Linked DNA regions of Homo sapiens. The protein of the gene in region 2 purifies or fractionates together with the protein of the main gene of each other region. This does not show direct contact. Each region holds a gene or a part of one and is shown on either strand. Other genes may lie near its edges.

What was found.
Region 1: the proteins of PHYHIPL (region 2) and DBT purify together in Homo sapiens (co-immunoprecipitation; one large-scale study listed by IntAct). This does not show direct contact.
Region 3: the proteins of PHYHIPL (region 2) and SMCHD1 purify together in Homo sapiens (affinity purification with mass spectrometry; one large-scale study listed by BioGRID and IntAct). This does not show direct contact.

What each region holds. Positions count from the first base shown.
Region 1 is NC_000001.11:100,204,765-100,208,422, forward strand, and holds part of DBT (lipoamide acyltransferase component of branched-chain alpha-keto acid dehydrogenase complex, mitochondrial isoform 1 precursor), read right to left. Parts: intron 1,873-3,658; coding exon 1,681-1,872; intron 1,538-1,680; coding exon 1,466-1,537; intron 1-1,465. UniProt on the Homo sapiens protein: The branched-chain alpha-keto dehydrogenase complex catalyzes the overall conversion of alpha-keto acids to acyl-CoA and CO(2).
Region 2 is NC_000010.11:59,242,643-59,245,614, reverse strand, and holds part of PHYHIPL (phytanoyl-CoA hydroxylase-interacting protein-like), read right to left. Parts: intron 559-2,972; coding exon 24-558; 3' UTR 1-23. UniProt on the Homo sapiens protein: May play a role in the development of the central system.
Region 3 is NC_000018.10:2,662,071-2,665,728, reverse strand, and holds part of SMCHD1 (structural maintenance of chromosomes flexible hinge domain-containing protein 1), read right to left. Parts: intron 1-3,658. UniProt on the Homo sapiens protein: Non-canonical member of the structural maintenance of chromosomes (SMC) protein family that plays a key role in epigenetic silencing by regulating chromatin architecture.

The DNA.
Region 1 (3,658 bases), on a different chromosome or scaffold from region 2:
CAATGGAACCGCACAGGGGCCTCAGAAATAACACCACACATCTACAACCCATCTGATCTTTGACAAACCTGACAAAAACAAGCAATGCGGAAAGGATTCCCTATTTAATAAATGGTGTTGGGACAACTGGCTAGCCATATGCAGAAAACTGAAACTGGACCCCTTCCTTACACCTTATACAAAAATTAACTCAAGATGGATTAAAGACTGAAATGTAAGACCTAAAACCATAAAAACCCTAGAAGAAAACCTAGGCAATACCATTTAGGACATAGGCATAGGCAAAGACTTCATGACTAAATCACCAAAAGCAATTGCAACAAAGCCAAAATTGACAAATCAGATGTAATGAAACTAAAGAGCTTCTGCACAGCAAAAGAAACTATCATCAGAGAGAACAGGCAACCTACAGAATGGGAGAACATTTTTGCAATCTATCTATCTGACAAAGGGCTAATATCCAGAATCTACATGGAACTTAAACAAATTTACAAGAAAAAAACAAACAACCCATCATAAAGTGGGCGAAGGATATGAACAGACACTTTTCAAAAGAAGACATTTATATGGCCAACAAACATATGAAAAAAAGCCCATGATCACTGGTCATTAGAGAAATGCAAATCAAAACTACAATGAGATACCATGCCAGTTACAATGGCAATCATTAAAAAGGCAGGAAATAACAGATGCTGGAGAGAATATAGAGAGATAGAAACGCTTTTACACTGTTGGTGGGAGTGTAAATGAGTTCAACCATTGTGGAAGACAGTGTGGCGATTCCTCAAGGATCTAGAACCAGAAATACCATTTGACCCAGCAATCCCATTACTGAGTATATACCCAAAGGATTATAAATCATGCTACTATAAAGACACATGCACATGTATGTTTATTGCAGCACTATTCACAATAGCAAAGACTTGGAACCAACCCAAATGTCCATCAATGTTAGTTAGACTGGATAAAGAAAATGTGGCACATATACACCATGGAATACTATGCAGCCATAAAAAAGAGTGAGTTCATGTCCTTTGCAGGGTCATGGATGAAGCTGGAAACCAGAAAACCAAACACTGCATGTTCTCACTCATAAGTGGGAGTTGAAAAATGAGAACACATGGACAGAGGGTGGGGAACACCATACACTGGGGACCTGTCGTGGGGTCTGGGGCTAGGGGAGGAATATCACTAGAAGAAATACCTAATGTAGATGACGGGTTGATGGGTGCAGCAAACCACCATGGCAGGTGTATACTCATGTAACAAACCTGCACATTCTGCACATGTATCCCAGAACTTAAAGTTAAAAAAAAAAAAAAAAAAGAAATAATAGACTTTCTAAGATAAACTCAGAAACTTAAAACCTACAAAAGGAGGGGAAACCTTAGAAATGGTTACTCTTCATTGTGTTTAGTCCCTGAATTTGCTTAAACTCCATTTTTCAGTTATCTAATACATGTACCTTAATTGATCCAAGGGCCCCAATGGCTACTTCAGGTGGCATTATCACTGGTTTGGCAAAGGTACCACCAATCTATTTTTTAAAAAAAAAAAAAGGAGAGTATTAAAAGTTAAGATTTTTCAGGGAACAAATGCCAAGTGACTTTTCTATTTTTAATTAAGCATATGATCAGAAACCTTAAGTAATGGTTTATGTATTTCAACATTATTACTCACTGATCCAATGTTGGAAAGAGTAAATGTTCCTCCTGTAAGATCAGTGGTGCTGAGCTGACTCACAGAGCCCAATTTCTGGAGGCGGTTCAGTTCAGTGGCGATGTCAAATATAGAGCAGATCTGAACATTTTTCACATTAGGGACAATCAAACCCTGCTCAGTATCCATTGCTATCCCAATGTTATGAGAAGCCTAAAAAATAAAAAATTGTACAGTAGGGCTTTTAATGAATAAGCTAACAGCAAAGAAAGGATCAACCTTCACTGCCATCTAGAAACCACTACCAAAACTCATTTTTACCAGATTGGTAGTGATTTAAAAGAAATAATTTAAAAATAATTTTTAAAAGATTTTTTGGGCTAGGCGCAGTGGCTCATGCCTGTAATCCCAGCACTCTGGGAGGCCAAGGTGGCTGGATTACCTGAGGTCATGAGTTCAAGACCAGCCTGGCCAACATAGTGAAACCCCATCTTTACTAAAAATACAAAAATTAGCATGGTGGCACAGGCCTGTGATCCCAGCTACTCGGGAGGCTGAGGCACGAGAATCGCTTGAACCTGGGAGGTGGAGGTTGCAGTGGGCCGAGATTGTGCCACTGCACTCCAGCCTGGGAGACAGAGTGAGACTCTGTCCAAAAAAAGATGATAATTTTTTATTGATAAGAATGTAGGCAATAGGCTATTTCCCAACATCGTTAGTGGGAATGTAACTGGTACAGGTTGAGCATCCCTAGTCCAAATATCTGAAATCTGAAATGCTCCAACATCTGAAACTTCTGGGGGCTGAAATGACGTCATGTGATGTAGCCAATTTCCTTGAAAACTGATTTATCACCCTGAGTCAAGATCCATCTTCAGAATTCTGTATACTGACAAATATAGAAATGTAAAGATTTTATTTTCAATTTATTGGATGGATTAAGCACCTCAGCATTCCTTACTATGTGATAAAATACATATATAATAAAAAGTATATTCAATATTTTGTCCTTAAACATTATGCTGCATAGTTGTTGAAACAGTTCTCATTTTATAATATTTAATCATATCAGAGCCCATCAATAAAAAAAAAAGAGAAAAATGCAGCCATTGTTCTGGCAGGGCATAGTGGCTCATGCCTATAATCCCAACACTTTGGGAGACTGACACAGAAGGATTGCTTGAGGCCAGGAGTTTGAGACCAGCCTGGGCAACATAGCAAGACTCCATCTCTACAAAAAAATTTTTTTTAATTAGCTACAAAAATTTTTTTTTAAATTATGGCACATGCCTATAGTCTCAGCTACTTGGGAGGCTGAGGTGGGAGGATCATTTGACCTCAAGAGTTTTAGGTTACAATAAGCTATGATTATGCATGGGTGACAGAGCAAAACTCTGTGTCAAAAAAAGAAAAAAAAAAAACTTTGTGGCCGGGCACAGTGGCTCACGCCTGTAATCCCGGCACTTTGGGAGGCCGAGGCGGGCGGATCACGAGGTCAGGAGATGGAGACCATCCTGGCTAACACAGTGAAACCCCATCTGTACGAAAAATACAAAAAGAAATTAGCCAGGCGTAGTGGCAGCCTCCTGCAGTACCACCTACTCAGGAGGCTGAAGCAGGAGAATGGCATGAACCCAGGAGGCAGAGTTTGCAGTGAGCCGAGATCGCAGCACTGCACTCCAGCCTGGGCCACAGAGCAAGACTCTGTCTCCAAAACAAAAACAAAAAAAAACAAATCCAACTTTGTTTCATGCACAAAAATGTTAAAAATATTGTATAAAATTACCTTTAGGCTATGTGTATGAGGGGTAAATGAAACATAAGTGAATTTCATGTTTGCACTTGAGTCCTGTCCTCAAGATATCTCCTTTGTATATGCAAATATTCCATAATCCAAAAAAATCTTAAATCCAAAAACGCTTCTGGTCCCAAGCATTTCAGGTAACGGATACTTAAACTGTAGAGACTTTCTGGAGAACATATGACAACATGAACCAAC
Region 2 (2,972 bases):
AGTAAGAATAAGAAAAGTGGGCATTAACGTCCAACACTGATATTACAGGTTTTGCAGCTGGGATCTTTCTTTGCATTTGCAGTAGACAAACTCATGAGCTGATGACCAGTGATTTCTGCCACGGTGCCCACAGAAAGATCCACAGGGTCAGTGTAAATGACTTCTAAAATGACATCCTGGGCATGGTGGTAAACCAGCACCCCATCTTCTTCTGTACAGGTCAAAAATTTATTATCCTTAGAATTTAGTTGAGGAAGGCGCTGCTTACAAAATTCATCTCCTGGTGATCCCACAGGAGCAATAACAAGAATCACATAATGATAAGCAGTGTACATACAGTAGAAGTCCCCAAAGTATAAGTTAGTATTGGGGTTAAAAAGTTTTTCTGCGGCAATCTCAAACCTGTATCTTCCATAAGGTGAATCCTGGGGTGGCTTTCCAGTATTGAATTCAGTGCTGCAGCTGAAGAAGATGCCTTCTAATTTTCCACTGATAGGAGAGCCATGGCTACCACTGTTATCCTTGACAGATGGCTGCATAGCATTCCCATGATGTTCTCTGCAAGAGAAAACAAGTGGTCACTGCTTAATACAATAGTGGTAAACCCACTGATTTATATATTTGAATGGCCTAAAAGTCAAACATCTACTGTTAAAGGCCTGAATACCTCTCTTACTATCAGAATAAGGGGACAACATCTTTTGACATATTACCTATAGATGGCTGTATTCTAGCTTTGACCTTAAGGTAAGGATGAGCTGCTACAAGCCTTGGAGACTTTGTATTAAATTAACATAATAATGTAAATTTCCTGGCCAGAAAAATCAAACTGGAATTAGAAACCTTACAGGTAAAATCACACATACATTAAGTGCCAACTGGGTTTCAGAAGTGGCTTTCTGAAGAGAAAACTGAACTAAAGGTATTGGTTAAATATATTGAATGTTTCTTTAAAGCATGATAGATTTAGTCATAAAATGAGTGCTGTCCATTTATACTGGCACAAAAGCGTTGTGTTTTGTTTTGGCTTTTTTTTTTTTTTTTTTTTTTTTGAGACAGAGTCTCACTCTGTTGCCAGGCTGGAGAGCAGTGGCACGATCTTGGCTCACTGCAACCTCTGCCTCCCAGGTTCAAGCAATTCTCCTGCCTCAGCCTTCAGAGTGGCTGGGACTACAGGCATATGCCACCATGCCCAGCTAATTTTTGTACTTTTACTACAGACGGGGTTTCACCACGTTGGCCAGGATGGTTTGATCTCTTGACCTTGTGATCCGCCCACCTCGGCCTCCCAAAGTGCTGGGATTACAGGCATGAGCCACCACGCTCAGCCCTTGTTTTGGCTTTTTAACCCAAGGACAGTAATCAGGTTATTTCTCTGGCATTTTGCTTAAAACAGTGCTAGTTATTCCCACTTTACCTCACCCCCAAATCCATTCATTCTCCACCACAGTCCTCCACTGTGACCTGGGACTCTAGCATTCAGTTCCTTATCCCTTGGCCACTTCCATTTCAGTTCTACCAATGTGAGGCACCAGCATATATAGAGTAGGAGGAGGTAAAGCTTTGGGTATGTCTTCCTGTATTTCCTCCACGCTTTAGGGCATTGTGGTTCTGGCAGGGCTGCATTCTTCATAACTATGTATCTCTGACTACTGCTGCTGCTGGATGAATTCCTATTCCCTTTCATTCCCATGAAGAGTAAAACTTTTCAAGTCTTGCTAGTGCTAGTTCTTGGTTCCTTTAGCATCCCCTATTTGTTACCGTAACCCTGACTACACCTCTATGAAGGGGTAGTTTTGTTAAATTCTCTCCAGAATTCCCCAAGTGTGCTGCCTTCTTTTTTTTGTTGTTTGTTTTTTTTTGCTGGGTCCCTGACCAGCATGACTTGGGAAGCAAAGTTCAAGCTACTACTCAAGTAAGGGAAAGTTCCCCCAGTCAACATGCTTCTTAAAGAGTTTATGGGTCAGTGAAATGCCTGGATCTGCCTCTGAATTTAGCAGCAATGGGTCTCGAATTCTACCACCTGAAAACCACCTAGGGAGCTTATTAAAAATGCAAATTCAAGGAAAGACCAAAAAATTGTCACAGTTAAGAGAATGAGGAAACACAATAAATAAATGTGTGATATCCTGGATGTGACCCTATACTTTTACTTGTACTGTGCTTTTTTCTTTCTGATGTTCCAGGTTTCCTTCTTTTATTATTTCCTTCCTTCCTGTTTCAGAAACTTCCTTTAGGATAGATATGCTGTTGACAAATCCCCTTAGTTTTCCTTCATCTGAGCATATCTTAATTCCCTTTTATTATTGAAGGATATTTTCACCGGATATAGGATTCTCAGTTGACAGTGCTCGTTCAGCATTTGAAAATATTGTGTCACTTTCTTTTGCTAGGTAATTTCTGATGATGATGTCATTCAAATTGTTTTATTTTTCCTTATACATAAGGTGTCTTGTATCTCACCACTTTCAATGTTTTTTTTTTTTCCTTTGGCCTGCAGTTTTCAGTTTGTAATATATCTTGGCATGGATTTCTTTGGGTTTATCCCATTTAGGGTTTTCTCAGCTTGAATCTGTATGTTTATGTTGTTTGGCAAATTTGGGAACATTTCGGCTATTAATTCTATGAATACTTTTTCAGCCCCACCCTCTTTGTCTTTTCCTTCTTGACTTTAACAACATGAATATTAGATCTGCTATAGTCTCACATGTCCATAAGACTGATATATATTTTTCGGTGAGTTTTATCTCTGTTGTTCAATTTGCGTAATTTCTATTCTATCTTCAAGTTTACTGATTTTTTTCTCTTTGTCCTCTTGAATCTGCTGTGGAATCCATGGAGTCTATCCAGCTTTTGACTTTACTTACTGTGTTTTTATGTTCCAAAATTTTCATTTAATTCTTTGTATCTTCTATTTCTTTGCTGCTTCCGTTTTTATGTGTTTCAAGTGTGTTAGTATGTGCTTCTTGAAC
Region 3 (3,658 bases), on a different chromosome or scaffold from region 2:
TTAGCATTTTATAGCACGGAGGGAAGAACAGCCATGCTTTGTAAGACATACAGGTCCATTCAAACGAATAACTTTAAAAATTAAAGCAAATTATAAATTAGAGGGAAACTGGCCAGGCATGGTAGCTCATGCCTGTCATCCCAGCACTTTGGGAGGCTGAGGCCGTCGGATCACAAGGTCAGGAGTTCAAGACCAGCCCGACCAACATGGTGAAACCCTGTCTCTACTAAAAATACAAAAATTAGCCAGGTGTGGTGGCGCACACCTGTAATCCCAGCTACTCAGGAGGCCAAGGCAGGAGAATCACTTGAACTGGGGAGGCGGAGGTTGCAGTGAGCCAAGATCACACCACTGCACTCCAGCCTGAGCAACAGAATGAGACTCCGTCTCAAAGAAAAAAAAAAATTAGAGGGAAATTGCAACAAGAAACAAAAGGGTGACAAGGATCAACAAAGAGAAAAAGTAAAAACACAAAAAAATGAAAAGGAGAAAATACAAATGACCAATGAACACATGAACTGTAAAATCACATTAATCAAAAAATGAGAATTAGAAAAGTGGTTAACATTTTCATTTACATTAGAATTAAAACATACATGCTCTGTCTAAAATGAAACAATACAGCAATATATAGTTAAGAGAAAAGGCTTCTGTTTCGGGTAGTAATGGACTAGTCTAAAGATTAACATTCTTATTGAAAACATCTAAAAAATCTAGACTAGTGATACTCAAATCTTCAAAAATGATATTAATAAAAACCATTATTGCTCACCACTGGGATGAGCTAGGGCACCAACTTGTCACTCTGAACACTGACAAATTAAAGGGAAAGAACAAATTATTTACACTGCTTTTCTTGTATCAATGGTACTTCAGGATAACCAAAATAGCTCTGGCTGATGAGGCAAAGTTGTTCCTTAAAGAATTCCAGCTAATAAACACAGGAGGAATGGCAAGTCAGATCAAAACTTCCTTATGGAGGAATCCTGCTGAAATCACGTGAATCCCAAGATTTTAATGTTAGCATTGCTATGAGTGGGTGAAACACCCACACATCACGTGCCTCCCAGTGTAATGCCATATGAAGTATCAGTACTACCTACAAAGCATTCTTTGCCTCCTGACCCCAAAGAAGTTGAACCTAAATCAAATCAAGCCTTTAAAGCTAACTTTTAGTTTACAGAATACATACGGAGATAAAACAAATTAAGTAACACCAAAAAAGAGCACAAACAAATCCATAATGTGGAATATTAAAGACCTAGTTGATTTCTTCAAGAGGTCAACTGCAGGAAAACTAAAGAGACTGGTGGAGGAGGAATTTGCTCAAATGCTTTAAATTGAAAATAATTAGGAAACAAAAAAAAAACAAATTTAATGTGAGGACTATGTCAGATCCTGATTTAAACAAACCAACTATAAAAAGATACTTTTAAACATTCAGAGAACTCAATATGGACAGGGACATTAGACAATATTAAAAATGCTTTATTTTAATGGTTTGATAATACATATTCAGGCTGAAGTATATGGGGTGAAATGACCTAAGACCTAGAATATGCCTTAAATACATTACAAAAACAAAAATGATCCTAGTGTGGTAAATTCCTATTAACTTGAATCTGGATGAGTACACTGGGGTTCATAACATGATTCTCTCTTTGTGTCTGAAGGTTTTCATAAGAAAATTTCTACTTTAAAATATCCTGGAATAGGCCGGGCGCGGTGGCTCAAACCTGTAATCCCAGCACTTTGGGAGGCTGAGGAGGGTGGATCACGAGGGCAGGAGATCGAGACCATCCTGGCTAACACGGTGAAACCCCGTCTCTACTAAAAGTACAAAAAAATTAGCCAGGCGTGGTGGCAGGCGCCTGTAGTCCCAACTACTCGGGAGGCTGAGGCAGGAGAATGGCGTGAACCCGGGAGGTGGAGCTGGCAGTAAGGTGAGATCGCGCCACTGCACTCCAGCCTGGGCGACAGAGCGAGACTCCGTCTTAAAAAAAAAAATTCCTGGAATAGACCAGTGGAAGAGAATAGAGGGCCCTTAGACAGGTCCACATATATATGGATGCAGAGCCTAGCAAACAAGAGAGGTGACATTACAAATTGGTGGGGAAAGAATAAACTATCCAATGAATGATATTAAGACAACTAGTTATCTCAACATGGAAACAGATAAAATCCACACCTTAACTTAGACAAAAATAAATTCCAGGAGAATTAAAGCAGTTGTACATTAGCCCAAAATTGTAAAAGAACACATAGGGAAATAATTTTGAGTGAGCATAAAGGGATTTCTGAAAAGGTACAAACAGTGGGCCAGGCACAGTGGTTCACAGCTGTAATCCCAGCACTCTGGGAGGCCAAGGTGGGCGGATTGCTTGAACTCAGGAGTTCAAGACCAGCCTGGGCAATGTGGTAAAACCCCATCTCTACAAAAAATGGAAAAAAAAAAAATAGCTGGGCATGGTGGTGCACACGTGTAGTCACAACCACTCAAGAGGCTGAGGTTGGACGATCCCCTGAGCCTGGGAAGCCGAGGCTGCAGTGAGCCGTGATCACACACTACTGCACTCTAGCTTGGGTGACTTTTGAGTGAGACTCTGTCTCAAAAGATGCAAATAGCACAAGTCATAAAGAAAAAGACCAGACAACATAAAAAGATCAACATCACTAGTTATCAGTGAAATTAATATAACTTATTCTCATCAGGTAGGCAAAAATGTTAAATTCTGAGCCCATCAAGTGTAGGCCTCTGTACAGAGAAATAGGTACCTTACACACTGCTGATATGACTGAAAAAAAGTCAAACATAAAGAAAGTAATTAATTTGGCATACTTTAGTAAACTTAAAAGATACTCATATTCCATGCAATTCCACCCTAGAGAAATAAAGCCATGAACATAAACTGACTGGGAAGATTCTATTTGTTTAACAGAGACAAAAATGACCTTATAGATTTTTATTAGGTTTCATATAACCATGACAGTCGTGTATTTTTTAATTCATTACTACTTTTTTATTTCTATGATGTCCCTTTTTTTTTTTTTTTTTTTTTTTGGTTTTTTGTTGTTATTGTTGTTGAGATGGAGTCTTGCTCTGTTGTGCAGGCTGGAGTGCAATGGCACGATCTCAGCTCACTGCAAGCTCCGCCGCCCGGGTTCACACCATTCTCCTGCCTCTGCCTCCCAAGCAGCTGGGACTACAGGCGTGTGCCACCACACCTGGCTAATTTTTGCATTTTTAGTAGAGACAGAGTTTCACCACGTTGGCCAGCTGGTCTCAAACTCCTGACCTCAGATGATCTCCCTGCCTTGGCCTCCCAAAGTGCTGGGATTAGAGGCGTGAGCCACCAGGCCTGGCCAATGTCCCACTTGTTAAATCATGTAATTATGCATCCTGTAGTTACTGAAAAACTATGTGCAAATGATTTTTTTAAGATCTATGTTCACCTAAACATATCTAATTATTCCATATAATCCCACATAAGTCTATTATTTTTTCTTTCTTTCTTTCTTTCTTTCTTTATTTATTTATTTATTTATTTTATTTTTTTTTTTTTGAGACGGAGTCTCGCTCTGTCGCCCAGGCCGGACTGCGGACTGCAGTGGCGCAATCTCGGCTCACTGCAAGCTCCGCTTCCCGGGTTCACGCCAT